Regions from separate parts of the Homo sapiens genome. Here regions 1 and 2 are each reported to be linked to region 3. Evidence: microRNA targets listed by miRTarBase, many of them from high-throughput screens and not tested one by one. Region 3 holds a microRNA gene; each other region holds the end of a gene's coding sequence.
The links. The annotated mature microRNA hsa-miR-30e-5p reads UGUAAACAUCCUUGACUGGAAG and lies in region 3 at 7,375-7,396, shown strand. An mRNA with a match to its seed (bases 2 to 7 or 8) in the 3' UTR can be bound and repressed. Matches are read on the target gene's strand: a 7mer-m8 pairs with bases 2 to 8, a 7mer-A1 pairs with bases 2 to 7 and ends in A, and an 8mer does both.

Region 1 (9,946 bases), not on the chromosome of region 3:
GGTGTAAGCACATAAGACACACAAAAGAATACCTGGATTTTGGGGACGGGGAAAGAAGGCTTCAGTTCTGCAGTGCAAAATGTCTCAATCAATACAAAATGGACATTTTCTACAAAGAGACCCAGGCCAATCTTCCAGCTGGGCTGTGCAGCACATTACACCCTCCCATGGAAAATAAAGCAGAAGGCACCGGGGTGCAGCTGCTCACTCCAGACTCTTGGAATATCCCGCTAACAGATGCTCGGAGGAAGGCCCCCTCCCCGGTGGCTACAGCTGGCCAAAGCCAGGGCCCTGGCCCGTCGGCGTCCACCACCGTCTCTCCATCTGACACTGCCAACTGCTCTGTCACTAAAATCCCCACGCCAGTGCCCAAGTCCATCCCCATCAGCGAGACTCCAAATATCCCTCCTGTCTCCGTCCAGCCACCTGCTAGCATCGGGCCTCCCCTTGGCGTCCCGCCTCGGAGCCCTCCCATGGTGATGACCAACCGCGGCCCGGTGCCGCTGCCCATCTTCATGGAGCAGCAGATCATGCAGCAGATCCGCCCGCCCTTCATCCGCGGGCCTCCGCACCATGCCTCCAACCCCAACAGCCCCCTGTCCAACCCCATGCTTCCCGGCATCGGGCCCCCGCCCGGTGGCCCCAGAAACCTGGGCCCCACTTCCAGCCCCATGCACCGGCCCATGCTATCGCCCCACATCCACCCCCCGAGCACCCCCACCATGCCCGGGAACCCCCCAGGCCTGCTGCCCCCGCCGCCTCCGGGCGCCCCGCTGCCGAGTCTTCCCTTCCCGCCAGTGAGCATGATGCCAAATGGCCCGATGCCGGTGCCCCAGATGATGAATTTCGGGCTGCCGTCGCTTGCCCCGCTGGTGCCGCCCCCGACCCTGCTCGTGCCGTACCCCGTGATCGTGCCCCTACCGGTGCCCATCCCCATCCCCATCCCTATCCCTCACGTCAGCGACTCCAAGCCCCCCAACGGGTTCTCCAGCAACGGGGAGAACTTCATTCCGAACGCCCCTGGCGACTCCGCGGCGGCGGGCGGCAAGCCAAGCGGACACTCCCTGTCCCCCCGGGACTCCAAGCAGGGCTCGTCCAAGTCCGCGGACTCGCCCCCCGGCTGCTCGGGCCAGGCCCTGAGCCTGGCGCCCACGCCCGCCGAGCATGGCCGGAGCGAGGTGGTGGACCTGACGCGGCGCGCCGGCAGCCCCCCGGGCCCCCCGGGCGCGGGCGGCCAGCTCGGCTTCCCAGGCGTGCTGCAGGGCCCGCAGGACGGCGTCATCGACCTGACCGTGGGCCACCGAGCCCGGCTGCACAACGTGATCCACCGCGCGCTGCACGCGCACGTCAAGGCGGAGCGCGAGCCGAGCGCCGCGGAGCGCAGGACCTGCGGCGGCTGCAGGGACGGCCACTGCAGCCCGCCCGCCGCCGGCGACCCAGGCCCGGGCGCCCCGGCGGGCCCCGAGGCGGCCGCGGCCTGCAACGTCATCGTGAACGGCACGCGCGGCGCCGCCGCCGAGGGCGCTAAGAGCGCGGAGCCGCCTCCCGAGCAGCCGCCGCCGCCGCCGCCGCCCGCGCCCCCCAAGAAGCTGCTGTCGCCTGAGGAACCGGCGGTGAGCGAGCTAGAGTCGGTCAAGGAGAATAACTGTGCTTCCAACTGCCACCTGGACGGGGAGGCGGCCAAAAAGCTGATGGGCGAGGAGGCCCTGGCGGGGGGCGACAAGTCAGACCCGAACCTTAATAACCCCGCGGACGAGGACCATGCCTATGCTCTGCGGATGCTGCCCAAGACCGGCTGCGTGATCCAGCCTGTGCCAAAACCCGCGGAGAAGGCTGCCATGGCACCGTGCATCATCTCCTCGCCCATGCTCAGCGCCGGGCCTGAGGACCTGGAGCCGCCGCTCAAAAGGAGGTGCCTCCGAATTAGAAATCAGAATAAGTAAAAGGTTTGTATGTCCGCCGGGCGCTCCTCCACACCAGCCAGTGCACCTCTCCTTACTTCTGACAAGGCAGAGGGGAGAGTTGTAATTATAGTCATGATTTTACCGTGTGTGTTTTATATTGCACACGGTGTGGTCACGCTATCAACATTCTGAGCCAGCAGCTCTGATGCTGAGTTGTTCAGTAGCATCATTCCCATTTTACAGCCGAGGAAACTGAGCCACAGCATGTGAGTGCCAAGCCCCGGGTCACTTACTTGAGGGGAGAGCTCAGTCTCCAACCTGTCATGAAATATTGTCTCTCCAATTACACTTTATTATCATGCTCATCTCCGTAAATCACCCTATTGGAGAAGAGGAGGATGGGGGGAGGGAGAAGAGATTAACTTGGGACACCTAAATGTGTGATCATGAGGTTGCAGGGCAGTGGTGAAATGTCCAGTGAACCCATGAGCTGGGCCACCTACTAAATAGAGCTGGTTGCCTCATTGGCAGAATGTCACCAAATTTTCTTGATAAGGACGGGATTCCATTTGTAAAGTGAGAATGAAACCTAACTCTTACATGCATATGTCAACTGAACCCAGGCCACTGAGTCCTATTTGCCTGGCAGGGTGTCTTTCCTGTTCATGGGGTCTCCTTCCTGCAGTTTGGCACCAAGCAGCATCCCCCAGGGTAGGCCTCAAGCGTCACTGACCAGCTTTGCTCTCTCCCCCTTTTGGGGCCCAGCGGCTTAGCTGATGAGTTGCTCACCTTTGCAGGTAATGGGAGGCTTCGATAGGGAAGAGGGTGGCATTGCTAAAGTGAGTGACACTGCACATCTCTGACCTCATAGACAGACTCCTGCCTAATGCCAAGTGAGCCGCCAAGAGTGAGTTAAATTTTTCAATATTGGGAAGGGGAACTAACATGTGTGCCTGTCATAGGCAGAGGTGGCCTCATTTGCTCCTCCTGCCAATTCTGGTGGAATAGGCATCATCTGTATCTCACCAAGGAGGCAGATGAAGCTTAGATACTGTGCCCGAAGCAGAGCTGGTACGTGGGGAAGCCGTATTCAACTCAGGCCTGTTGGACACAGCCCAAGCTCTCCCGTCTATCCAAGCGGGCATCAAACAGGCCAAAATTCAGTTGAGTTTATCAACTTCTTATGGAGAGGAAGAGGAGAGATGAGCATTTATTGAGCACCTAACTTGTACACTGCTCCTTCCAGGGACTAGGGAGATACAAAGGTAAATGATGGCGTGCCCCCATCTGGTGGGAGTGCAAACTCCAGGAGGAAGGAAGCGGGGGCCAGGAGAGTGGATCTCGTAAGATGAATAATTGCTCACATTTGTATGCAGGCTGTCTTCTAAGTGTTTTTCGGTAGTATTTATTTGGATCTGGGTCCATAGGACAATTATCGTCTTCATTTTATTGATGAGGAAACCAAGACAGAGACATTAAAGTAACTTGCCCAAGATTTTACCAAATTAGCAGAGTTGAGATGCAAATCCAGGCTGTCTGACTCCAGAGCTGCATTTTTTAAAAAACCACTGTAGGAGAATAGGCTAATTAGTTTCTTTATTACCCTACATACTAAAATTGTTTTACCCACCTCAGTGGGTAAAACAACCCTCAGTTGTCATAGGGGAAAGTTTCTTAAAAAACAAACAAAAACTGAGTCTACCTCCTAACTTCTCTAAGTGTTCAGACAGTTGAATTCTTGTTTCTGCAGCACCAACAAGCCTAAATTACCAACCCATTACTCCACAGTGGGAAATACAAACGTGGAGCACAGCACTTGCTGTGGTGTGTCCAGTCCCTGGTCTCTAAGTTGGGCCCCTAGCATAGCCAGGAGATTGCTTGGGAAGCACAGACCAGAGCAAGGAGACTTGTCAGTTGAGGAAGAAAGGTTTCTCAGCCACCATCGTTCGAGGTTTCCTTTTCCTCTGATGGCTTTGCCAGTAGAGGAAGAATACTAAAAATGAGTTCACCATTCCTTCTTGATTTTACATCTACAAGTTCTGCTGCCTGAAGACAGATGGCCTCAGCCTTCTCACAGTCACCTCAATTGAAAATGCCCCTGATTTCTTCACGAGAGTAATTTAATCTGGTTGACAAAGCTGTGAGTAATGGGAAGATGTGTGACAAAAAAAGTGACGGCCTTCAGAAAGTCAGAAAGCATTGGGAATTGTCACTTTAAACACATTCTAATATCACTCATTCAGGTGAGGCTGAAAAGAAGAAGAATGGGAGGGTGAGAGATTTTACTATTATACCATCATTGGAGTGAGAAGTGACCAGGTCAAGAATAGTGACACTAACATATGAGTAGCTTGGGACCAAAATAACATAAAAACATAAAATACACGATGGCTATTTGGATGATATATGTTTCTGAATAAAGAATCAGTCTTGTATGTGGACCAGAATCATTAAAAATATCAACCTGGCTCCAGCCAATTTCAGAAGATGTGGTGATGAAATTGCCCACTACCTCTTGAGATTGAAGAGTTCTTTCAATGATGGGTCCCCCAAGAAATTACAGCTTTTCTTTAAAATCAGAAATACAGAAATACTCAGGCTTTGTCAGCTACGAAAGGGTGACAAGGCAAGTGATTTAAGATGGGGGAAAAACCACCTCTCCTCCACTAAATCACATTTCCTCTTGCCCTCAGAAGTTCCGTGTCACCTCACAGCACAGTCTCAACCTGCCACAATTTACTCACATTCTCTGGCCCTTCCTGGTTTGTTTTATTTATTTATTTAGTTATTTATTATTTTTTGAGACAGAGTCTCAATCTGTCACCCAGGCTGGAGCGCAGTGGCGCGACCTTGGCTCACTGCAACCTCGGCTGCCTGGGTTCAAGTGATTCTCCTGCCTCAGCCTCCTGAGTAGCTGGGGTTATAGCCACGCGCCACGATGCCCAGCTAATCTTTGTATTTTTAGTAGAGACAGGGTTTTGCCATGTTGGCCAGGCTGGTCTCGAACTCCTGACCTCAGGTGATCCACCCACCTCGGCCTCCCAAAGTGCTGGGATTACAGGTGTGAGCCAACGTGCCCAGGCCCCTTCCTGTTTTTTTGTGCACATGTGGTGCTGTTTTTCTTCTATGCCTTCAGAAACCCAGACCGTTCATATGGTTGGGGAAATTGGAAGTGTATCCACTAAATAAAGGACCGTATGGCTTTTGTGCCCTGATGCTGAACACTGGTGACAAGTTAAAAGCCAAAGTGGAAAGTGTTACAAACCAAAAGCAAAACTCAGGCTGAGATGTGGTGGGTGAGGTGCAGGTGAATGATTTCTCCGTGTGCTTGTTGGTGATTCATTATATATTATTTCTCATATATATTCATTATATATTATATAGGATAATCTGTCAATAACTTCAGTCAGCTCTTCATTCTTCTCACTATGTCTGCCTTTTTCATACTGTAGTACTATTTTATTATTTTTATTTTATTTTATTTATTATTTTTTTGAGACAGTCTTGGTCTGTTGCCCAGGCTGGAGTGCAGTGGCACAATCTGGGCTCACTGCAACCTCTGCCTCCGGGGTTGAAGCAATTCTCCTGCCTCAGCCTCCTGAGCAGCTGGGATTACAGGCACATGCCACCATGCCCAGCTATTTTTTATATTTTTGGTAGAGATGGGGTTTCACCATGTTAGCTAGGCTGGTCTCAAACTCCTGACCTCAAGTGATCTGCCCACCTTGGTCTCCCAAAGTGTTGGGATTACAGGTGTGAGCCGCCGCTCCCAGTCTGTAGTACTGTTTAAAAAAATCATTTAAAATAGATCAAAAGCAGACCAAAGTATCTAGAAATTAGCAACCGAGGCAGCTACAGTTGTCTTCAAGGAAGTCTTATTTGCTAGTTCTTTGTAAATTATAGGGTTTTTTTTTCCCCATTTGGAAATTATTCTGTTCCTGGTTACCTGCCTTTATGCATTCTTGTGTGTTGATATGATTACAAATGATTTCAGTGGACAACTATTTTCCCCAGATGCAGAACTAATTAAGTTTAGTTGAAGATTTTAAAAGGTTGTAAACTTCCTTTGATCTTCAACTTTTAAGACTCCAAATGCCAGTTCTGCAGCTTCTGTAAGCTGGAAAAAATATCCCCCCGAATAATAAGGAAAACAATGTATAAACATTTTCCGAACTATTCTATCCACAAAGAATTCCATTTATAAATGGAATACTCCCTTCTTTGTCTTTGCCTAGGAGCTTGAGGGATAGCTGTTTGTATTTGTACATTTTCTGAATTTCTACAGTTTACACTTGTTTATGGTACATTGGGGAGTTCAGAGTAACCATTTGCAAATGTTTGAAGATATTCAAAAGAAAATATTCCCCCTCCTCAGTTTTCCAGGGAAATGACATAGACTCTTTAAGTAAAATAATCAATGGAAAAAATGTGTACAAGGAGTAACCCTTTCATCTCACTTTTCCACCTTTGTGGCTCCCAAATTTCTAAGTTTCAAAAACCAGAAAGAAAATATAAGACCCTTTTTCCTGGTCCCAATTCCATGATACTACTCCAGGCTCAGCAGGGGGGACTTGACATCTTATTTTCTCAGGGAAAGCTGGAGGAGGCACCTGTAGTTTGGCTTTTTGGAGTTTAATTATTAGTCTGGTCATGGAGCCACAGTCCTAGAAACAACTGTTCCAAGGCAAGGAGTTCACTTCATTGGGGAAGCCAAAAGGGTGGAGGTCCCAAAAAGTTTTTTGCCAATTTAGTTTCTCAAACTGAGAAGTTCAAGAGAGGAGGCTGTCTGGGAGGAGGTTGGGAAGTCAGTCCATACATTCGAAACAATACTATAGGTGCCTACTTTTAAAACAAGGAAAAGAAGGAAAACTGAGAGTGACAAAAGGAAATCAGTATGAATGGGATGTGCTCGGATCCTGTGTCAGACTTGTGCTATCTAATGGTCCAGTACTTGACTATTGGGAATATTAATTGGTGACAGTCCCTAAGTTAAGGGTTAGCTTGTCTGTTGGGATGCAGTTGGCACATATAGTTCTAGGTAGAGGTACTTCAGAGAGCCAGAAAGAAGACACCAGGTCTGTGTCATGGACACATGTGAGTGGGAGGACCTGGGAGTGTGCTTCCTGTGATCATTTCAGACTTGTAGAGGAAAGTTTTCTGGAATGAATGGTGTCAAGATTGGCCTGAGATATGTCCCAATTCAATGCTGCTGGGACCATGTTAACCCTTATGACCAGGGACTTGGAGGGAAGGTTTTAATGTACAAGCATCCAACTTTTATATATGATGTCAATCAGGTTATGATGGAATATGAAATGACATCTGTGACTGGATATTTATTACTTTCAGATGTACCCATAACCTTCCATCTTCAGCAGGACTGGGACTAGAGTGAAGCAAAGGAAGGGCTTAGGGCAGAGACTTTGAGGAGGCACCCACTCAGGGTCATGCTAGTGCAGCACTGGTCCTGGCTCTGTCTCCAGATCCATATGGCAGCTCCCTAAAGCTGGTCTCCTGGCCCCCTGGACTCGTCCCTGGATGGCCTTCAGCAACTCCCCCTGAAATTTCATGGAAAGTTTTATGTGCCTATGCACAGAGGCATTTTCATGGGAGAAGACGTCCATAGATTTTGGCTCCAGAAAAAGTATGCTCTATATCTCTGAAGGATTATCTTACCTTATTATGGAGCAATATCTGAGTTGAAATTTTTCTTGTTTCTCTGAGGAAGCTGAATTAATGGAAAGTTTCTCTTAAAACTTAGAATATATTGTTTGGCAATTTCTGCTGTGGGCCTAATATTGCAGAATCAAAGTTGGAGCTACATCATGTAGCACTTGCCTCAATAAGATTGCCTTAGTGACACAATGCAAAAGGTTACAGACTTTTCTTCAAGTTACCATTTCCCACAAGGGCCTGTGATGAAAGAAGAAAAGAGAAGCAAGAAAAGAAATAAGCTAGATACTTCCCCAGCACTTGGACCTTCAAAATTTGTACGATACAGGGAGACACTGTTCTTCTGTGGAAAGATCTTCTACTCTGCCACTGAGGCCAAGAAAGCAGAATGGCCAGAGTCAGAGAGGTGGACAGGTCGGTGAACACCAGGGCATTGATGTGGCAGTGTCTGGGAGCGCTGCCAATGCTCCCTAGCTCCCCAGTATGCCTCTTTACTTGGAGAGACTGCACTTGGAAAGAGACGCGTTCGGCCAGCTATTAACCAGCCGTTGCCCAGGAGGGCACTGGAAATCAGTTCCCTGACTGGTTTCCAATGAGTCACTCCCTTGCCAGCCTAAGCTGCTGCCTGTGCACCATGTTCAATCATTTACACCTACCTTCATGCAGACAAGTGCTGCAGAGGGGCAGAGATGTCTGAGGACCAAAATACGCTGCACCGTGGAACACTTACCTCATGTTGTGGAACACTTACCCTCACCCGAACGCCCCGCCTTTTCCAGACTTTCCTGTCTAAGAGATCGTGCCAAAGGGACGGGGGTGGCCATGCTGTTTTCTCTTACCGTGTCCTGCACAACTTATTTTGTATCCTTCCGTTGCCGTTTTAAGTGCATAGCACTTTCTATGTGGATGGATGTTAAGGCAATGCATTCTGCATGTGTAAACTTTTTCTTAGGGCCTCAAAGGGCATAAACGAAATTCATTCAGAGAAAGAAAGAAATTAGCTTTAGAAAATAAACAATTTAGCACTGGCATCGTTTAACAGGGTCCCATTCTCAAGGAAATGGGGTAAATGCCATTTCAGACACCAGCTCTGAATACTAACTGCAGAGAGTTCTTCTCCAGATTTGTGGATTTCCACAGCACAGAAAAAAAAAATAGGGTGGGGTCAGGATTGGGAACATGAGACCATCAACAGGGAGGGGAAGTACACACACATGCACAAAACTTATTTCAAGGGTCATCGAAAAGATTCTAGTGAAAAATGACTGGAGCAAAAGAAAATGACAATAACAAAAACTTGGAATTATTCTCTAATGCTTTAAAATAGTCCCAAGTGTACTACATAGTTTAAAATTGGAAATCAGTCAAGTTACCTAACTCTGCCACTCCTTGGACTGAATTAATGATCATAAGCAAAAAATGCTTGTGCAATTGTACTGTGTGGTCCAGATGTACAGCCCTGAGTAGAGAGATGGGGGCAGAGCAGACCTGGCTTTCCAGGTAGCCAAGGGGTCAGGGCTGGGGCAAATCAAAGCTTCCAGTGCTCCCAGCCTCATTCCCATCCAGATATTTGGCTGCACCAGCACTAGTTGTCTCATCATTTTCCCCTCTGAACCTCTGGTTTGTTGTCTGTCTTTGATATAGTAAGCTGTGTTTTGTTTTGGGTAAAAAGGGAAGTAAGAATGTGACTGATAGTATTTAAAGAACAAAAGGGAGAAACGCTTCATGAATTCATTTGATATGGAACATTGACCTAACATCCAAAAAAATACAACTAAAAAGTAGATCTTTCCCTCATTTGCATGGCTTATTTCCCCAGATATGTTTTTGGTATTGAAAATGAATGGTATTCCCATACAACATGTGTCTCAATTTGTAATGATATCCTCCTTGCAGCTGGCTTAGTTCTGCAAGTGTTTCTAAAATGTTACTGTCTTAAATTTGAACCAACCTACAATAACAAATTATCTAGAAGCAAAGTGGCTAAACGGCATTTGGAGAGAGAAGGGGAAACCCTATATTTCATCCTTCAACTCTTGTTTTAGAAATTCAGACTGTAACGTGATCTTTTTCTAAAGAAATCTACACACACACACTTTAAAAACTGTGCAGCTTGGGTGTTGTGGGAGCAAGAATGATCAGGTTTAAGTTTCTCTGCAAAGCTCTGCATCCCATCAACAAGCTCTTTTGATATTTTAAACCCGTATTTAGAGTAATTTCAAGATATTTGGAGCACATGTGGTTACATGTAAAACTTTGTCCTTATAATGTGTTAGATGCTCATACTTTAAATATTTATAAGCTTTTATTTATTTATTTATTTTTATTTTTTTCTGAGATGGAGTTTCACTCTGTTGCCCGGCTGGAGT
Region 2 (9,946 bases), not on the chromosome of region 3:
TGAGGCACAGCTGGCTTCCAAGCCTTCCCCAAGAACCATGAAATCCAGTGAGACCGATAAGGCAGGCCCTGCCCTGGGGAGCTACTGCTTTGGGGTGACAAAGACATTTAGTGCTAGAGGAGGGCTGATGCTGCAGCTGTGGAAAGCTTCCTGGAGAAAATGACCTGGAAGGTTTCTGGGATGTGGCTGAGGAAGGAGGGCGAGGGTGCAGCCTGTGCTGGGATGGCCAGGAGCATGTGGAGTATGTAGCCAAAGGCGGAGCCCCGGGGCCTGGAGTGCTCTGCTGTGGGCTGAGCCTTTAGCTGAAGCTCGCTCAGCAGGACTGGGCAGGTGGATGGAGGAGCCTGGTGATAAACTCTGGGACGAATCTGGAACTGGGTTTGGGGACAGAGCTCTCAGCCCGTGACTGCCCTCACAGTCTTCCCCAACCCCCACAGGCAACAGGACCTGTACCGAATCCTGAAGGCCTACACCATCTACCGGCCTGACGAGGGTTACTGCCAGGCCCAGGCCCCCGTGGCTGCGGTCCTGCTCATGCACATGCCTGCGGAGGTCAGCGCCCTGGTCCTGGGCCGGGAGGGGCAGGGGGGATCTCACCCTACAGTGGTGATGGGGGAGCTCCCTGCTCCCTGCTTCTCAGGCCCCACCCCTCCTCCTTGTTCTTGCTCTTCTCAGCAAGCCTTTTGGTGCCTGGTGCAGATCTGCGACAAGTACCTCCCAGGTTACTACAGTGCAGGGCTGGTGAGTGTCTGGAGGCTGGGTGCATCCGGGGCTGTGGCGTTTCCTCCAGGCTGCAGGCAGGTCCTTGCCTTGCCCCACCCTGGCCTTCCCGGCTTCTGCCCACAGGGCCGGCCAGTTCTCCCCTGATGGGGGCACAGCTGACTTGGCCCTCTTCTCATGGCTTGTCCCACCTGCAGGAGGCCATTCAGCTGGACGGGGAGATCTTTTTTGCACTCCTGCGCCGGGCCTCCCCGCTGGCGCATCGCCACCTGCGGCGGCAGCGCATTGACCCTGTGCTCTACATGACGGAGTGGTTCATGTGCATCTTCGCCCGCACCCTGCCCTGGGCGTCGGTGCTGCGTGTCTGGGACATGTTTTTCTGTGAAGGTACTTCTGTGGCCCTCCAGGCCATGAGGGGCTGGGGTTTCTGTGGTGGCTACCAGGGGTTCTGTCATATTTCTGGTGGTCCATGGACAAAAGGTACTTGTTGGGTGGAGGTTTCACCATAAGCAGCTGGGGGCTGGAGAAACAGGCCTGATTTTAGTTCTGCCACCAACCCAGAGCCTGCTCTCCCTGCCAAGATCCTGAGACTGATAGCAGCTCATGTACTTTCACAGGGCCTCAGTTTCCTCATCTGAGATTGGCAGTAGATGGGGATGGGGGCTGTGAGTCTATCCTGATCAGGACAGGCTGAGATCTTGGGTCTGACCACCCCATGCTCTCTACTCTCCACCCCTGCAGGCGTTAAGATCATCTTCCGGGTGGCCCTGGTCCTGCTGCGCCACACGCTGGGCTCAGTGGAGAAGCTGCGCTCCTGCCAAGGCATGTATGAGACCATGGAGCAGCTGCGTAACCTGCCCCAGCAGTGCATGCAGGAAGACTTCCTGGTGCATGAGGTAGGCCTGTGCCCTCAACGCAGCCCCTGCCTGCCTCAGCCCGCTCCCACCCTCAGCTCCATTCTGGTACGCATTTCCTCTCTGTGCAGGTGACCAATCTGCCGGTGACAGAAGCACTGATTGAGCGGGAGAATGCAGCCCAGCTCAAGAAGTGGCGGGAAACGCGGGGGGAGCTGCAGTATCGGCCCTCACGGCGACTGCATGGGTCCCGGGCCATCCACGAGGAGCGCCGGCGGCAACAGCCACCCCTGGGCCCCTCCTCCAGCCTCCTCAGCCTCCCTGGCCTCAAGAGCCGAGGCTCCCGGGCAGCTGGAGGGGCCCCGTCCCCGCCGCCCCCCGTCCGCAGAGCCAGTGCTGGGCCTGCCCCAGGGCCTGTGGTCACTGCTGAGGGACTGCATCCATCCCTTCCCTCACCCACTGGCAATAGCACCCCCTTGGGTTCCAGCAAGGAGACCCGGAAGCAGGAGAAGGAGCGGCAGAAACAGGAGAAGGAGCGGCAGAAACAGGAGAAGGAGCGGGAGAAGGAGCGGCAGAAGCAGGAGAAAGAGCGAGAGAAGCAGGAAAAGGAGCGAGAGAAGCAGGAGAAGGAGCGGCAGAAGCAGGAGAAGAAGGCTCAAGGCCGGAAGCTTTCGCTGCGTCGAAAGGCAGATGGGCCCCCAGGCCCCCATGATGGTGGGGACAGGCCCTCAGCCGAGGCCCGGCAGGACGCTTACTTCTGACCTCTGCCCTGGGGCTGGACTGCATGGCCCCCCTCTTTCCCTCAGCCAAGAACAGGCCTGGCCCAAGGTGCCACCCCCTAGCACCTTGTCAGGCTGTCCCTTGCTGGGGAAAGTGGCTTGGTTCCCCATCTCCTCGCCAGCTGCTGATCCCTACACGGGCAGGACAGATGGGCAGCTGCAAATGAGTCTGGAGCCTCTCATCTCCCATGAGGCTCAGCTGGGGTCTCTGTCGCTCCTGCCCCAGTTCCCTCTGGGTCCCCTCCTAGGTGCTGTCCTGAATGGCCCGTTGTCATCCCAGGGGTGACTCCTGGTGATGGGAGTCAGCAGTTTCAGATTCTTACACTCCATAGCTCCCCTTACCATGAGGTGGAGCTGGCTTCCTTTTCCCTGTCTTCAGCCCTCCCTGTCTCCCCCACTTCCTGGCCAGGGCTCTCATTCTGGACCTGTGTTGTAATTGTGTACAGAGGATGGCGTTGGCCTGGGGTGGGGGTGCTCGCTTTGTCTTCTGTCCTTTGGTTCTCCTTCCATAATGCTCCTGTACCCAGTTTATTTAAGGGGACATGCACTGGAATAGGAAATGTCCCCCATCTCCCTTCCTGCACCCTGCTGTGCTCCCTCCAAACCCACCTTGCTCTGTGTTCTCAGGCCCCCCTGCTTTTGTCTCACCAGGACCCATACCTTTCACCTTGTTCCCTTCCACCCCTCCAGTTAGTCCCTATCTGGGTAAGGGTCTTCCCTTGAGCTCCAGGGGGTGGAACCCAATGTTTACATTCTCTTCTGTCTCTGCCCCCACCCCATGCAGCGCTTTGAGGAATTGGAAAAGAACCTGCTGTTGTACCTGGGCCTGTTTTCTGCCTTGTTATTTGATGAGGGGGGGATGGGGTAAGGACGAGGGAGGGAGGGACAGAGCCAGGACCTGGGTCTCTGTTGAAGCAGTCTGCTGTCTTGGCAAGTAGGTACCTCTTAGCTTTGGGTCCATCTCTCAGTCACTCATCAGACACTGGTTGAGCTCCTGCTCCATCTTTGCCTGGGATCTGCTGTCTCCATTGTCACTGGCTGCCTGGAGCTCTCTATGTACCACGTGCAGCACCCGGATCTCCTTCCCAAAGTGCTCATGCAACTCCTGGAAGCTGGAGGGGGTACTCACAGTGGCTAGAAAGCCACTGTCCTCTGGGGATGAGATGGGTTCTTGGCCAGTTGCCTGGCACAGCTCCCAGTATTGGGTTTTGGTGGGGGGGGAGGGGGGACAGCAGCCCAGCCAGCCGCCTCCAGCTCGCGCCAGCCAGTGCCCACAGCCAAGTCTCCAGCTCTTCCTGGGTTTCTGCAGCCAGCTTGTAGGCCCGCCCACCTGTGCCCTCCACCCCAGGGGTCAGGATGGTAAAGGCATAGGGTTCTGCAGCCTTAAGGTGTGGTTCCACCTGGCAGTTCTCTAACAGGATGAGGCTCAGGGGTGCATGGTCGGTCTAGTGTTCTAGGTAGAAGAGGAGGTTTCCTCGGAGGATGAACCATCGGCGCTGGTAGCTGAGGTTTCGGGTCCCCTTCTTTAGCAGAATGCCTTCCTGGTCTGGGGCCTGTGTTCTGTAACCATGGAAGAAACTGAGCACGGACTTTCTGTGCAGTTTTCATCGTGATCCAATATGGGAGGAAACCCCTAGGGAGAGAGAAGTGGCCCATCTAGTTGCCTGGGGGAAGAGTAGGGGAACTCTCATGCTGTCCTCGTCTGGCTTCAGCACGTGCTGCCTGCGCACAGTCTTGGCTTAGGGGGATGCAGGCTCCGAGTGTCAAGAGCTAGGGGTCCCAGCACAGGGGCTGATCCCCGCTACCTCCCCAATTCCCCCTTCTGCTTGGGCCACATTCCGCTACCTGGGCAGGAGTTGCTAGGCCCTGTTTGCTCAGGGGGGCTTCATGCTGCAGAGAGGCACTGTTGCCCTTTTCCAGGCCTACCTGAGAGCAGGGCACAAGGGGCTTCTGGCCTGAGTACTGGCGCCAATGCCACCTCTCCAGTGATGGCTCTCCCACCTCAGAAACCAGGAACTCGCCCAGGGTATGGGCGTGGGACAAATTATTTCCCCTGGGTCCTAAAGGGAGGTGTGTTCAGAAAGTGCCCGGAGAGCCGTCCAGGGGCCCCAGGCTGGCCATCGGGAGAGTCAGGCTTCCCCTCGGAGAGGCAAGGCTGCACCTCTCAGGCTAGGAGGGCTGACCACTGGACCATAGGAATGGGAAGGCAGGATTTCTAACGAGACGGTAGGGGCGCTGAGCCCTTAGCCCTGGGGGAAGGGTGACTTGAACCCAGGACAGGAAAACGGAGCAGCAACCCACTGACCCTGCTCGGACTTTGCCCCTCCATCCTGACCCTGGGCGGCCCTTTAAGCAGATGCGCTCCAGTTTTTCTCCAGAGCCTCTACTGCTTGAATGACGGACTCGAAGCTACTTCCGGCCATTTCTCACGCCCAGTCAGAGTCCAGGAATTCTTAGGTTCCCTCTTCTCACCATTGTCCTCCCACGTGACTGACGTCACTTCTGGCGGGAGAGAGGGTGGAGGCGTCTTCGCTCGCTTATCGCATACTTCCGCCCGCTCTTCCAGTTAGTTCCCTAACCCGAGTGAAGCCACTTCCGGGCTTCCCGGGCGCCTTCCGCAGTCCTCTTCCGGGTGATGGCGGCCGGGTGCCCCGGATGTAGCCCTGGCGCAAGCATCTCTTCTTTTTTCCACCTCGCCTTCCGCGGATTCCCAGGTGAGTGCGCGAGGGTGGGACCGCCCGAATCCCCGTGGCCCTCTAAGTTGTACACAGCCCGGGACAGTTGGGGCTCACCACACGGAATTGGGAGTTCGGAGCAGGGAGGAACGGGGTGGCGAGAGCGCCAGGTCCTGGGTCTGCCGGGGCCCGGCGAGCTCCGAGAGAGCCAGGGTAGAGAGCGGGGGTCAGCCCGTGGAGCCGGTGGCGCGCAGACTGCGGGGGCTGGAGTTGGGGGCGGTCACGTGGTGAAGCCTGTCTCCTTTCAGCCAGGGTCGGGGGATCCAGAGGGTCCGCTCCTCCGTCCCCGCCCCGTTTAACTCGCGGATGCTAGACCCAAGTCCTGGAGGCCTCCTGGCTGCCAGCTTCCTTTCGGCCCCTGCTTTTGTGCTCCCTCCGCTCCCAAACTGTACCTGTCACAGACCAGGAAAAATGTTTGCTGTGCTGCGTCTGTTGGCGAGTCCCCTCCTCACCCGGTTCCCTTCCTCTGCATCCTTTCCTCAGCTTGAGAAACACCTCTTTGCCCCGTCATGCCAAAGAGGAAAGTGACCTTCCAAGGCGTGGGAGATGAGGAGGATGAGGATGAAATCATTGTCCCCAAGAAGAAGGTGAGGGGGCCAGACTGCTTTGTGTGGGGGAAAGAGGAGCTAGAAGCCTGAAGAGGAAGAAAGCTGGCGGGAGAGGGGCGGGGCGGGCAGGCAGAGAAAAGCCTAGTTTTTTCAGGTTCTCTGAGGAATGGGTTGGGAGCGTCTTTAGTGTGGCTCCTGAAATATTTGGGGAAGTAGTCGAGATCCTGAAATATTTGGGGAATATTTGGGTCCAGATCCGGAAGTATTTGGGGAGGTAGCCAGTAACCTGCATTTCTCAACTTTCTGGCTCCTGCTCACAGCTGGTGGACCCTGTGGCTGGGTCAGGGGGTCCTGGGAGCCGCTTTAAAGGCAAACACTCTTTGGATAGCGATGAGGAGGAGGATGATGATGATGGGGGGTCCAGCAAATATGACATCTTGGCCTCAGAGGATGTAGAAGGTAAGCTGTACCCAAGAATACACTCTGCTGGAAAAACAAGTAGGGGCCTCTGGTGGTGTGGAGCGAGGGAGGCTCCGGTCTCTTTTTTCCATGCCTGGAAAAGGGCACCTGTGTCTTTGGTGCAGGTCAGGAGGCAGCCACACTCCCCAGCGAGGGGGGTGTTCGGATCACACCCTTTAACCTGCAGGAGGAGATGGAGGAAGGCCACTTTGATGCCGATGGCAACTACTTCCTGAACCGGGATGCTCAGATCCGAGACAGCTGGCTGGACAACATTGACTGGGTGCGGCCCAGGGGCTGGCGTGGCTGGGGCCTGGGAGTGGCAGATGCTGGGCCTGCTCCCGTGGCAGTTGGTGGGAAATCACTCCATCTTCCCATTACAGGTGAAGATCCGGGAGCGGCCACCTGGCCAGCGCCAGGCCTCAGACTCGGAGGAGGAGGACAGCTTGGGCCAGACCTCAATGAGTGCCCAAGCCCTCTTGGAGGGACTTTTGGAGCTCCTATTGCCTAGAGAGACAGTGGCTGGGGCACTGAGGCGTCTGGGGGCCCGAGGAGGAGGCAAAGGGAGAAAGGGGCCTGGGCAACCCAGTTCCCCTCAGCGCCTGGACCGGCTCTCCGGGTTGGCCGACCAGATGGTGGCCCGGGGCAACCTTGGTGTGTACCAGGAAACAAGGGAACGGTTGGCTATGCGTCTGAAGGGTTTGGGGTGTCAGACCCTAGGACCCCACAATCCCACACCCCCACCCTCCCTGGACATGTTCGCTGAGGAGTTGGCGGAGGAGGAACTGGAGACCCCAACCCCTACCCAGAGAGGAGGTGAGCTTGGAGGACAGAGGAGGGGGCAGTGGGTAGGAAGTGAGACACTGGAGGCCAAATGGCTTTGCCTGTTATTTTAGAAGCAGAGTCGCGGGGAGATGGTCTGGTGGATGTGATGTGGGAATATAAGTGGGAGAACACGGGGGATGCCGAGCTGTATGGGCCCTTCACCAGCGCCCAGATGCAGGTGAGCTGCTTTCTCCCTCCTCCTGCCTTGTCCCTGCTTCCCCCACTCCTGTCAGTTGTTCCCCAGCTCTGCCCTCTCCTTGCAGACCTGGGTGAGTGAAGGCTACTTCCCGGACGGTGTTTATTGCCGGAAGCTGGACCCCCCTGGTGGTCAGTTCTACAACTCCAAACGCATTGACTTTGACCTCTACACCTGAGCCTGCTGGGGGCCCAGTTTGGTGGGCCCTTCTTTCCTGGACTTTGTGGAGGAGGCACCAAGTGTCTCAGGCAGCGAGGAAATTGGAGGCCATTTTTCAGTCAATTTCCCTTTCCCAATAAAAGCCTTTAGTTGTGTACTGGGGCCTTGGCTGTGCTGATGGCCAGAAGCCAGGGGCCTTCTCCACAGTCCCTTTGGACTTGTCTTGGTCCCTGAGTACTCCCATGAAGATCCTTCTTGGAGGTGCCTGTCAGGTATCCTGTGGCCTCCCTGCCTGGACTCTGCTTGCCGTGTAAACACCCCCAACTGCGCTGCTCTGTGCTCCTCTCCCAGGTTTCTTGTTCGATTCCTCTTAGGTCTTTGGCTTTCAGGACCTCAGATTCTTTATCCTTGTAGCCACCAGAGGACAGAGCCCCAGAAGTGGATGTTTTAGGCCCAGAAGGACCAGGGCATCGAGAAGACATTGGGACCCTGTTGGGGGTGAGCATGGAACCCTCTTACTCTCGCTTCACCCTCTCAAGCTCCTTAGATGCTGGGCAGAAGTGGGATGAGTGGCCCAAGACCGAGATCCCTAAGGTTCTGAGAGCCAGTGTCTTCCCTAATCTGGCTTTCCTCTATCCTTGCCGTCGTTCCCACAGCCCTTCAGTGAAGTGCAAACTCAGTGGCCAAGTGTGGGCCAAGTGTGCATTGTACTGGCACAGAGAGGGGCAGTGACTCACTGGAGATCACAGGAATCAAAGGGCTGGCCCAGACCCAGTGGGCTCCTTTCCCAGACCTTTCTTGGCACAAAGCCTTTGCTGCCTGGCCTTGGAGGCCCTGCGGCCTACATTCTCTGGACCCCACTATGTGCCTGGCACAGGGCTAGTGCCTTGAGGAAACTGAGGTAGCTGGGTTGGTCCCCTTCCAGGAATTCAGAGTCTGGTGGCAGGGGCATGGGAAATAGACAGATGTAATTCTATAGCCTGGGCCTGGCACCCTCCACCTCCACGCCCCACCAGCATTGCCTTACGCCTCCCTTGCCCCACGTTAGATGGTTTCTTCCGGTTTTGCACTCTGGCTGCCCCTTGGAGTCTCCTGGGGAGCTGTAATATCTCTTTGGAGATTCAGATTGAGCTGGTCTAGGTTGTGGCCCAGGCATTGGGCATTTTGGAAGCCCCCAGGTGTTTTCAGCTTGCAGCCAGGCCGAGAGAGAGCCCCTGAGTCAGATCCCCATGGTTTAGGCACACCTAGCGGGAGGGGTGGCTCCTGGACCCCACCGTGGTTGGAGAGCTGAGCATGTGTGTGGCTTTAGTGGGGTCTGTTAGTTATGGGGGTCTGGGCACTGGAGCTGCAGGACACTTGGGATCCCAGGTCAGAAAGGGCCAGATGAGCAACTAGGAAAGACTTGGGGGCCAGGGCGGAGTGGGGTCACCTGACACTCTTGTGAGGCCCCTTCTAGTGCCTGCTCACACCGGAATTTCATTCACTCCAAGAAGCCATCAGGGGTAAGATACCTTCCTTTAAACGTCACTAAGAAAGAAGAGGCCTGCCGGTGACACAGTAAGATGCCATTGATCTAAAGATGCGTCTTGATTTCAGAAAGGTCCGGAAGTGGAAAGCAGGTTTCAGGGCTGCTGAGGTACAGGGTTCTCCTGTAGGCCCCAGGGATGGTCTCAGGGGTGCTGAGTGCGTGCGTGGTAAATGGATGGAGCCCAGGGGCGCCTCCTGCCAGTGTCCTCCAGGCACTCAAACCTAGCCCTTCTGAAGCCGACCTCACGTGACCTCACAGCCCCTCCTGAAGGCGCCTCACTGATGACGGTGGGTGGAATAACAGCCCCCAGAGATGTCCAGGTTTGGAACCCCAGGACGTGGGAAAGTGTTACCTTGCGTGGCAAAAGGGACCCGGCGCCTGTGCTTCAGTTCAGGATTTCGTGGTGGGGAGATGACCGTGGATGGTTGAGGTGGGCCCTGAGTAATCATGGGGGCCCTTATAAGGGAAGGGGAGTCACGAGGGTCTGCGCATGAAGCAAGGAAGCTTCTGGCTGTGAAGATGGCAAGAAGGCCTGGGGCCAGGCGATGAGGTGGCCCCTGGAGGAGCTGGAAAAGGCATTGGATTCTGCCCCAGAGCCTCCGTGGAGAAACAAAGCCGCACTGACAAGACTTCAGCCTGGTGAAAACCATTTTGGACTCCTGACCTCTAGAACTGTAAGATAATAAATTGGTGTGGTTTTCAACCTCTCAGTTTGTGGTAATTTGTTAACAGCCCCAATAGGAAACAACTACTCATGCATCCAGGGGACACCTCATGAACCACCCGATCTCACTAAGTTCTCCCTTCCTGTGACCACATTGCTATTTCAGGTCCCTGTCAGCACTTATAAATGTGGCTGCCTCTTGCTAGGGTGGCCTTTATAGCACATCTGAAACAGCACTCCTTGGCTTTTTGTTTGTTTTGTTTTTAGAGACAGGGTGTTACTGTCACCCAGTAGGGGTGACAACATCTCTCTACACTGGAGTACAGTGGTGTGATCATAGCTCAATGCAGCCTTGAACTCCTGGGTTCAAGTGATCCTCCCACCTCAGCCTCCTAAGTAGCTGGGTCTACAGGAGTGCACCACTTCACCTGGCTAATTAAGAAACTTTTTTTTGTAGTGGCAGGGTCTTGCTATGTTGC
Region 3 (9,946 bases):
CAGTTTCTGTTGTCAGGTTAGTGCAAATGTCAGAAATGGCCACTATCAGTTGTAAAGAACTGTGGATCACTGTGGTCAAGTGCCCCGGCGTTGCTGTTAGTTTGGTCACTGAATGGAAGAAAGAACTGGCAGTTTAGAGGAATACCCCTGAGACAGAAATCTCATTTTAATCTGCATATTGCAGACTGGTAAACTTACTTGGAAAAAAAAAGAAGGCGCTCATAATGTCCCTCTATGTTGTGCTGACGAAAAAAAAAAAAAAACAGATATTGCTTGGGGCTGTGTTTCATGAGAGCACTGTTAGAGGCCATCCTAAGCTTTTTCTAAAGCCCATTAATTCTTTGAAGACCTGCATATGTTAAGTAAAGAAGAATTTTGCTCTGGAGCTTGTATTTTCTTCATTTCATCTGTACCTTCTCTCCCGACATACGCTTCCTGAAGAGAGGGACCAAGCCAGAGTGTTTCCTACTGCCTGTCATGCTTTGCCACACTGTTGATTGTCCCCACCATTTATGCATCTCTTGTTGTTCATTTCAGAAAGACTTCCGAGTGCAGGAACTCCCACTGGCTCGTATTAAGAAGATTATGAAACTGGATGAAGATGTGAAGGTGAATTCACATTCATTTTTATTATTTCTTATTGAAGCTAAGTGATGGGTAGGTTATTGCTCATTTCTCTAGAGCTCAAAGTTTAATTAAACAAGAACACACAAAAATTACTGTCTGTTGCTTTGTTATTTGGTTCCTGTGCAAAATTGTTAAGTGAGCCAAAATTGAGCAGTTTTGGTTACTATATGGATCATCCTGAAAATTTTTTAGATGTTGAAAAAATAGTTGATGTTGGGTTTTTTTTTTTTTTTTGAGAGTTTTACTCTGTTATCCAGGCCGCAGTGCAGTGGTGCGAGCTTAGCTCACTGCAACCTCTGCCTCCCAGGTTCAGGCAATTCCCATGCCTCAGACTCCCGAGTAGCTAGGATTACAGGCGCCCGCCACCACACCTAGCTAATTTTTGTATTTTTTGTAGAGACAGGGTTTCACCATGTTGGCCAGGCTGGTCTTGAACTCCCGACCTCAGGTGATATGCCTGCCTCTGCCTCCCAAAGTGCTGGGATTACAGGTGTGAGCCACCGCATCTGGCCTTTTCTTTCTTTTTGAGACAGGGTCTCACTCTGTCACCCAGGCTGGAGGGCAATGGCATAATCACGGCTCACTGTAGCCTTCACCTCCCAGGCTTAAGTGATCTTCCCACCTCAGCCTCCCAAGTAGCTGGGACTACAGGCACGTGCCATCATGTCTGGCTTAATTTTTAATGTTTTTTTGGAGTGGGGGACAGGATCTCACCATGTTGTCCAGGCTAGTCACGAACTCCTGGGCTCAAGCAGTCCTCCAGCCTCAGCCTCCCAAAGTGCTAGGATTAGGCATGAGCCACCATGCCCAGCTGGTATCTCACAGTTCTGTTCACAGTGTAGTATATACATGTATCATCAAATCAACAGGACAGTGCCATCATCTTAGCGTCTTACATAGTTTGTTGATCTGAACTCTTAAGAAATTTTTGATAATGATATTCTACCTGTTCTAACCTTTTGATCTATGAGTTTCTTTTACATGAATAATACTTGTGAGAGGGTTTGCGTGGGCTTGGCCATTTCTGTATTCCTAGGAGTCCATCTCCATTACAGATCTCAGAGAAAGAGGAACTCTGTCTCTTTACCACTCAAAATTAATAGTCTTTTGTATTTTCACAGAAAGCTAACAATTGATAGTAATTTTCCCTTTTATTAGCTCCTTTCTTCCTCACAGTAGCCCTGTGAGATTTGATATAATAAGAATTATCAGTTCCATTTTACAGACAATGGAAATAGACACAAAGAGGTTAAGTGACTCACCCAGAGTGATAGGACCAAGATCCCATTTCCCATCTGCTGCTTCTTTAACTCCAGAGCTCTTTCTGTGGCTGTATCCTGCACAGACTACCTCACCAAAGGTTTAGAACCTTGTTTGACCAAGAGCTTCAACTTTGAAATCAGACACATCAAGAAAGTTTATATGGCTTGAGCATTTCCTATATGCCAAGCCCTGGGCTGGGTACATATATTATCTCATTTGATTGCCACAATAAAACTGAAAGGTTATCCTCTTTTTCAGTACATGAAAAAGCCCAAAAGGATGGGAAGCCTGCAATTTTATCCAAATCCATTGGCTTTCAAGCTCATTCTCCTTCCTCATATTGTTTCTCCTTGGATTAGAACCTAAACCCTGCCACTTACTGGCTCTATGGCTGTGGGCAAGTCACTTCATCTCTCTTGACCCCTAGTTTCTTTGAAAGGCTATTATAAGAGTAAGAAAACACCTTGCACAAGGTTTGGCGCATGGTATGTGCTAGATAAGTATTCTTTCTCCCTGTTACCTGCTTTGTTCCCACTCATGGATTTATTTTACCTTGGAATCTCTTGAGTATACCACCTCATTTTTTGACCCTTGCCCCATAGTCCCATGCCAGGCAATGAGGCAAGAGACAGACTGGTTTGCATGACTTGCTGGTGATTGACAGGGAGGGCCTGTGTCTGTTACAGATGATCAGTGCAGAAGCGCCTGTACTCTTTGCCAAGGCAGCCCAGATTTTTATCACAGAGTTGACTCTTCGAGCCTGGATTCACACAGAAGATAACAAGCGCCGGACTCTACAGGTATTATTGCAGACTTAGATTAGGAAAACTGGGGTAAGCAGCAGCCTTTGCCTGTTTTCCTGCGTGGTGTTGGAGAAAGATTGTTCTCCTTTAGGACCAAAGATTGTTCTCCTTTAGGACCAAAGATTGTTCTCCTTTAGGCCTCTATCAAGCTGACGTGTCATTGGCATCACCACTGTTGGGAGGCAGACATACCTTCTAGCCATGGTGATTGTGTTTCTCCACCAAAAATCTTAATCAATTCTCTCCTGGTTTTCACAGCTTAGTGACTGAACTCTTTTCCCTTGGTGAGCCCTCACTATAAACAGAGGCTCAAGTGATAAGAGTATTTACCTGTTTCCAAACGTAATCAACTTCTGGTTGGGAGCCTTGAGAGATTCCAGGAAGTATCATCAGTCTCACTAGCTTCATTAGGCTTTTTGTTCCTTGTCAGCCTTCCTGGGAGTCCTTTTCTTTTTCTTCTTCTTTTTTTTTTAATTTTAATTTTTAACCTAGCGAATTCACATTCATACTGTATGCAGAGCCCTTGGTCATTGACTCTAGAAACCCTCACCCTATAGCCAAGCCCTGGCTCTTAGAGGAAAGATTTCCCAGATACAAGAAGAAGAGTGTAACAAGTATAAAACAGTGGTGGCAGTATTTTAACAATGAAGCCAAGAAAGTAAATTATTTTCTCTTCTTGTTTCCCTTTACCTACAAAGTAGAAAATGCATGTGTTTATTCATTTATTCTAAAAATACTTACTGAACACCCACAATGTGCCGGGCACTTTTCTAGGCTCTGGGGATTAACGATACACACAACAGACAAAAATCCTTATCTGTGGGAAGCCTGCATTCTAGTACAGCTTGTCAATGCGTCATAAAGTTAGGATTTGTGTACATTACTATATGAAAGTTTTAAAGCAAAAAAAGCAAAAAATACTGAGCTCCAATAAATGATATGCATGTTGAAGTCACAAAATTTATGTTGCCTTGAAGTTAGTCTGTGGATCCAGAGAGATCCAGTTAAAGCTCCCTTCAAGATCAATTCAGATTAGAAAATAAAATAGGCAAAACACTTGGACAGACCTTCAGAAAAAAAGATAAACAAATGCCCAATAAACCCATGAGAAGATATGCAACATCATTAGTCATCAGGGAAATAAAAAACTGCAGTGAGATACTGTTTTACACCCACTAGAATACCTAAAATAAAAAAGACTGACAATACCACAGTTGGTGAGGAAGTGGAGTGTCTGAAACTCATATATTGCTGGTCAGAATCTAAAGTGGTCAGTCAGTTTGAAAAAATATTAGACATTTTCTGATAAACATATCCCCCTACTCTGTAACCCAGCCATTTCATTCCTAGGTTTGTACCCAAAAGAACTGTAGCCATTCTTATATAAAAATGCTCTTAACAACCTTGTTTATACTACCTCAAAACTGGAAACAACTCAAGTGTCCATCAATATAGGAATATATAAACAAATTCTGAGGTATTGATGAAATGGATTCCTCCTCAGCAATAAAAAGAAACAAACCATTGCTCCATACAACATGGATAAATCTCAAAGATACTATGTTAACAAAAGGAACCAGAGGGAAAAAATTACATAGTGCATGATACAATGCATTATTACCACCTATAGTGATAGAAATCAGAGTTGTGGTTGCCCAGATTTAGGGGAGTGTGGGGAAGGATATTGACTGGAAAGGGCTAGAAGGAACTTTCTATATTCCTTTTTTATTTTTTGAGATAGGGTCTCACTCTGTGGCCTAGGCTGGAGTGCAGTGGCGCAATCACAGCTCATTGCAGCCTCGACCTCCTGGGCTCAAGTGATCCTCCCACCTCAGCCTCCCAAGTAGCTGAGACTACAGGTGCATGCCACCATATCTGGCTTAAAATTTTTGTTGTTGTTGTTGTAGAGATGAGGCCTTACTATGTTGCCCAGAGCTGGTCTTGAAACTCCTGGCTCAAGCGATCCTCCTGCCTCAGGGAATTTAAAAAGCAAATAAAAATTTTAGGAAGACCAACTTAAGTATATCTATGTTTCCAAAATACTCTAGAATATTTTATTATATGCTGGAGATGTTTATTATTTTTCTTTTTCCCCTTTTATTCCATCAATAAATGAGCCATTTAGATAGATTGAGTAGATGACATCAAAAAATGTGACACTATATTGTAGTCATCTTAAATGAGTTCTGGCAATCTTAAGATGGGCCCTGCTTCAGTTGGGAGGGTTTATCGTCAAGCTCGTGGTTGGCAAGAAGGGCGGACTAGAGTTTTGCATTTCAGAGGCTTGGGGCCATCACAGATACAAGGGAAAGAAAAAAAAAATTTCCATCCTCTCCTGTTTTGTCCGATGAGTCACCTTTTAAGGTGTGGTATATAGAGTTTGCTAAGGATTTCTGTTAGTGTGTTAACATTTTCCCCAGCATTTTATTATGAAAAATTTCAAACATAAGCAAAGTTTACAGTGAATACCTGTATACTTACAACCTAGATTCTACCATAAACATTTTACTATGCTTATTTTATTCTCATATCTGTTTATCCCTCTATCCATCCTTCAAGTAATCTGTTTTTAAGTGCATTGTAAAGTTTACTTTGCCCAAATACTTTAACATGCATATCATTCACTAGCGTTCAGTGTTTTTTCATATTGTTTTTCCTTTTGCTTTAAATCTTTAGTAAAGTACACAAATCTTAACTATACATAATATGTTGGGTTTTAGTAAAAATCTTTTAATTTTATTATTCAAAGAAAGGAAGTATCACACTTGGAGAGAAACCCCCATTAGAGCAGGTCTTGGTTTCAGTATCATTAGCCTTCTGACTCCTGTGTTCTCTTACCTCTCTTGCTGCTGTTCATAGCACAAACTATGAATATCAGAATTCTCACAAGCTATGTTTTTTATTTGGGAATTCAGAACTGCAATGATAAACCCATGGTTTAAGTATTGCAATTTAGAATTCCCAAATAAAAATCATAGCTTGTGAGAACTTAGTGTATATAGATCCAGTGACTTGAAAATGTTGCAAAAAGTTATTGAATTAGGATTTTACCTAATTCAATACTTGTGAACCAAAGGGAAAATATTATTTAGGGCCTTAAAAAGATTATAAACCTAACTTTGCTAACCCACAGAATGACCAGAAACCTGCTAATTGAGATTACTAGGTTTGTAATTTGAAAATCGCGGGGAGAGGATCAAGCAGGAGTAGCAGTGGTTGGAGGCTCAGATACCCCATTTTACAGTGTGAGTTACATGTATCTCTTTCTTTTTTGTTGATGGTTGCCCACCAGGTCTGATCATTTAAAGTATATGAGTTTGGCTGTGCTTATTTCAGCTGTAGACTTGCCCGTAGGTGTTTAGTTTGGCTTAAAAGTCGTCTTACCTTACTTGGAGGGTATAAAGCCAAGTGAACTAGTTTCTCCCCAGGCTAATTTTTCACACCGCTCTTCTTTGTTACAGAGAAATGATATCGCCATGGCAATTACAAAATTTGATCAGTTTGATTTTCTCATCGATATTGTTCCAAGAGATGAACTGAAACCTCCAAAGCGTCAGGTGAGCTGTGAAGGGATTGCAGTTGCTGCTGACTGAAGAGCGCTTTGTATACTGGTGTCAGATACGCTCCTTCTCTCTCAGCACAAGTCATTTGCTATTCCTTTTGCTTCTCGTTTCTAGACCAGATTCATTCTTAACATCTCCTTCTGTTACTCATTTCTGGATACTTTTAACTCAGTGCCTCCGAAGTGGTATTTCAGTGAAAATAGACAAAATGAAAATGAAAGACTTTAGTTACAAATGGTAAAGTTAAGCTCATTTCAAGTTATCTTAGGAAGTCTATCAGAGCTCTTCATCTGGGATAGGAGAATATTCCCAGAAAGTTATAGATTTTAGATTTTTAAGAAACAGCTTCTCTATGTGCACAGTGGCATTTGGAGTGAATGGACTATGTTTTCTCTTCCTCTATATTGTGGTTCATTATATCTTTATATAGTACCCTGACTGCACACTAGAATCACCTGTTGGGGTTTTAAAAATATCAGCGCCCAGGCTCTAACCCACATCAGCTGAATCAGAATCTCATGATGGAGCCCAGGCATCAGTACCTTTTAAAACTCCCTGGATGCTTTTAATGTGCAGTCAGATTTGAGAACCACCACTTGAGCTGTTTTGCAAGCAATCACAAGAAAGAATATGAACGTCTGCCTTCCCGTCTCTTCTGCCTGCCCCTCTCCAAAGGTCACACTAGTTGTTTTTTCAGCACCTTGGGTGCATATAGCTCTTAATTGTGATTGTAATAGACCTCTGTCCTTTAGAGCTCATTGTTTTAAGCATGCAGATTGCATGATTCACTAGGTGCCACTTGGGAAATTGTGGCAGAATCTCACAGGAGCAAAGCTGTGCCTTGTTCTGCTTGCTTTGTTATATAAAACTTTATTTTTAATGAATTATTTCATAGTATATTATCCTTAGAAGCAGTCATTCAGTGACAGCCATTCTCCCCATCCCAGCCTGTATTAATAACCAGTCAGAGAAAGTCTAGGAGAAGTGGGCATCCTAATGAACATTTGTAATTCTGACCCTGCATGAGGGCCTTTGGATTAGCAAGCCCTCTGTCACCTCCTTACTAGAGTAGGGTGTGCCTCACTGCGTCTCCGTTCTTTCTGGGCAGTCTTTGCTACTGTAAACATCCTTGACTGGAAGCTGTAAGGTGTTCAGAGGAGCTTTCAGTCGGATGTTTACAGCGGCAGGCTGCCACGGTCGTCCCCAGCTACGCACCGGCTTTGAAACATTGCAGGTTTGTGCCCACAGGCTCAATTCCTCCTCTTGGGGGTCCTTCCCTCCTCTCTCAGAAGTCACAACAAGAACTCAGGCCATTTATCTTCCTTCAGAACAAAGAGTATCATACACCTGCTTTCCTTGTTGAAATTGTTTTCTCCTTTTGTCTATCAGAAGCCCCCTTTAAAACAAGATTGTGAGCTCTGTGATGAAATCAGGCCTTGCTCACTCTCATTGTGCTAACTCCTTGTTTTCTGTGGGCTGCCTGCTGAATACACTGGCTGGAGAGAAGGGTCACATCCTGTCAGTTCCTCCAAATTCCTCAGTGCTTCTGGGTCTCTCGGGGTGTCATACAGCTCCTTATTCCATCTTAGCCAGACTCAAAATGCTATGATCCATCTGATTTTAAAGTGTGTCTAGCTGAAACAGCTTCTTGTTGCTTGGATTTAGTTCTTTGTAGGTGTTCGAGGCATTGATTGGCATCGTATTCGGGACAGCTGCTGCCTGGCCTTTGAAAGGTTGAGATTGCTGAAAGCTGGCCTGAAATTCTAAGATAGCATTTTTAATCCTCTGTAGACATGAAGTTTTCCCAGGCTTCAAATTGGCTGGCACCTCCTAAAGTCCTTTAAAACGCCTACTCTCCAAAACCCACCCTTTCTGAAGGAGGCAGCAGTTCACTCTTGCTACTAAAGCGAATGTACTTTTTTCCAGTCAGGGCTGGTTGCACAACACTGTAGAGATGGCCCTAGGATGTGATGCTGCTCTTCTCTGGCACTGTTCGTCAGTCTCAGCTTCTGGAAAGATTCCAAGAGCAAGCCCTGTAGTTGGGGAGGCCACTGCTAAAGTTGAGCAAGTGCCCCATTCTGGATTGATCCAGTCATTAAAGCATTGTTCTGCCACTTGGGGCAACCTCCCACTGCTGGGAAAAGGAACTAGTCAGAAATACTGAATTGTGAGTCCAAGGCCCTGACTTCTCAAAGATACTTGAGAGTTTCGCTTGTTCTTCAGAGAAGCAAGTAAAGATTATTTGAAGGTAGGAGGTAGTTGAGGCCTGACTTCTGCCCCACTAAAGCTATTGAGTTGAAAGTTCCTGCCCATTGAAATGTCATTATCTTTTCACCCATTTCTTTAAACCAAGCATAATCATTTCCTTGCTGGCTTGACCTCCATTGGCAGAATGAGTCTTCATAATGCAGAAGAGCCTTAGATATGCCTTCTTCCATTCCAGTGATTTGAGAACAGTTGTGCCTTGTCCTAACAACACAAACCTAGGTGCCTCCACTTGATTCTCAGTGTCCTAGATACTGTCTAGTTCATAAACAGTTTAAGAGGATGTAGTAAGCAGCATAGGAGGAGCTCTTGTCCTGCTCTCACAGCTTTTGGCAAGAGATATTTTGGGTTCTGGAAGGGGTTTTTAAAGGGTTTGCTTTTTGTCTGACAAAAAGATCATATTCAATACTAGATCAGCTGTAGTTGGGGATAACTGGAGACTAAACAATCACAGGTCACGGCTAGAAAATGCAGGTGTCTCCCTGCTGCCTAGCTTCCTACACAGCTGGTTCTGAGGCTCTCATTCCTGTATACCCTCTCATTACCCAAGAGCTTTTCCAAGTTAGGTCTGGATTTCAGTGATTTGTGCTTTTTGTAAAATAATAAGGGAGATCTCAGTGGAACACAAGTACCTTGAACCTACTTCAATAGCTTTGCAAAGAGCAGTTGGCTTCTGTTTCTTGGCTGCAAAAGGTATCAGTATTTTAGCTTTGCCACAGCCAATACCTAGTTTCCAGGCTGACATTTATTTATAATGATGATAAGTTGGGGTTGAAATTGTTGTGGAAATTGAGACCTAGATGAAAATAAAAGGGAATCTCCTTTTCCTTCTGCCTTAGCATAATCATATTGAGGGTTAAAACTATTTGTGTCTGAAGCACAGACTATATCAACCTAAAAAGTCAGTTCATATATTAACTTAGAAACCCAGAATGTTACAGGTATCTCCCTAAGCTGGGTAGATGGCTGTCAAGTAACCATGTCATGCAGAGACCCATGTTTCTCAGGGGTAGATACTGGCAGTCCTAGTTTTAGTATCCTAGCCCCCAGACATCAGGCAAACAAAGGATACTCAGCTCTGTTCCACAGGGGACACTAGCTGCTTCCTCACACTGTGGCCACAGAGTCTTAGAGGTACCAAAAGAGAGTTTAGAGACTACTTTTTTCTATTGGTAACAGCTGTTGGGTTTAAGAGAATTTGTCATATCAGCAAGTTGGATTCAGAGAACTACTTTCCTGCCTCTAACTGTCTGCCTGTCTAAATCCATTCATCATTCATCACGCACTTACTGAGTGCCTACCTGGGAACGCGGGGGATAGCAGAGAGCAAGAGAGAGCTAGGCTTTGCCCTCATGGTGCTTAACATTTTAGTAGAACAGACAGTTAATTTGACATGCAAGTGCAAAAATGTATACTGTGAGGACA

Region 1: the mRNA of SOBP is a reported target of hsa-miR-30e-5p. The part of its 3' UTR that is shown has no 7-base or 8-base seed match.
Region 2: the mRNA of TBC1D10B is a reported target of hsa-miR-30e-5p. Seed matches in the 3' UTR shown: 8mer at 3,098-3,105.

What each region holds. Positions count from the first base shown.
Region 1 is chr6:107,633,524-107,643,469 of GRCh38, forward strand. SOBP (sine oculis binding protein homolog) reads left to right here. Exons shown (of 7, transcript NM_018013.4): 6 at 1-1,946. The coding sequence ends at 1,943. Among named protein-coding and RNA genes, the nearest start is that of SOBP, 150 kb to the left of the region's middle.
Region 2 is chr16:30,350,333-30,360,278 of GRCh38, reverse strand. It overlaps TBC1D10B (TBC1 domain family member 10B), which reads left to right. Exons shown (of 9, transcript NM_015527.4): 5 at 438-552; 6 at 676-741; 7 at 918-1,107; 8 at 1,462-1,616; 9 at 1,706-3,177. The coding sequence ends at 2,335. CD2BP2 (CD2 cytoplasmic tail binding protein 2) reads left to right here and starts at 4,971. Exons shown (of 7, transcript NM_006110.3): 1 at 4,971-5,067; 2 at 5,572-5,675; 3 at 5,957-6,095; 4 at 6,221-6,378; 5 at 6,479-6,911; 6 at 6,992-7,098; 7 at 7,184-9,506. The coding sequence starts at 5,598. The coding sequence ends at 7,294. CD2BP2-DT (CD2BP2 divergent transcript) reads right to left here and starts at 4,845. Exons shown (of 2, transcript NR_184233.1): 1 at 4,659-4,845; 2 at 1-3,986. RefSeq lists enhancers at 4,800-4,859, 4,940-4,999, 4,054-5,005, 4,737-5,031, 4,722-5,921 and 1 more.
Region 3 is chr1:40,746,997-40,756,942 of GRCh38, forward strand. MIR30E (microRNA 30e) reads left to right here and starts at 7,359; the gene lies at 7,359-7,450. NFYC (nuclear transcription factor Y subunit gamma) reads left to right here. Exons shown (of 10, transcript NM_014223.5): 3 at 538-609; 4 at 2,577-2,690; 5 at 6,155-6,250.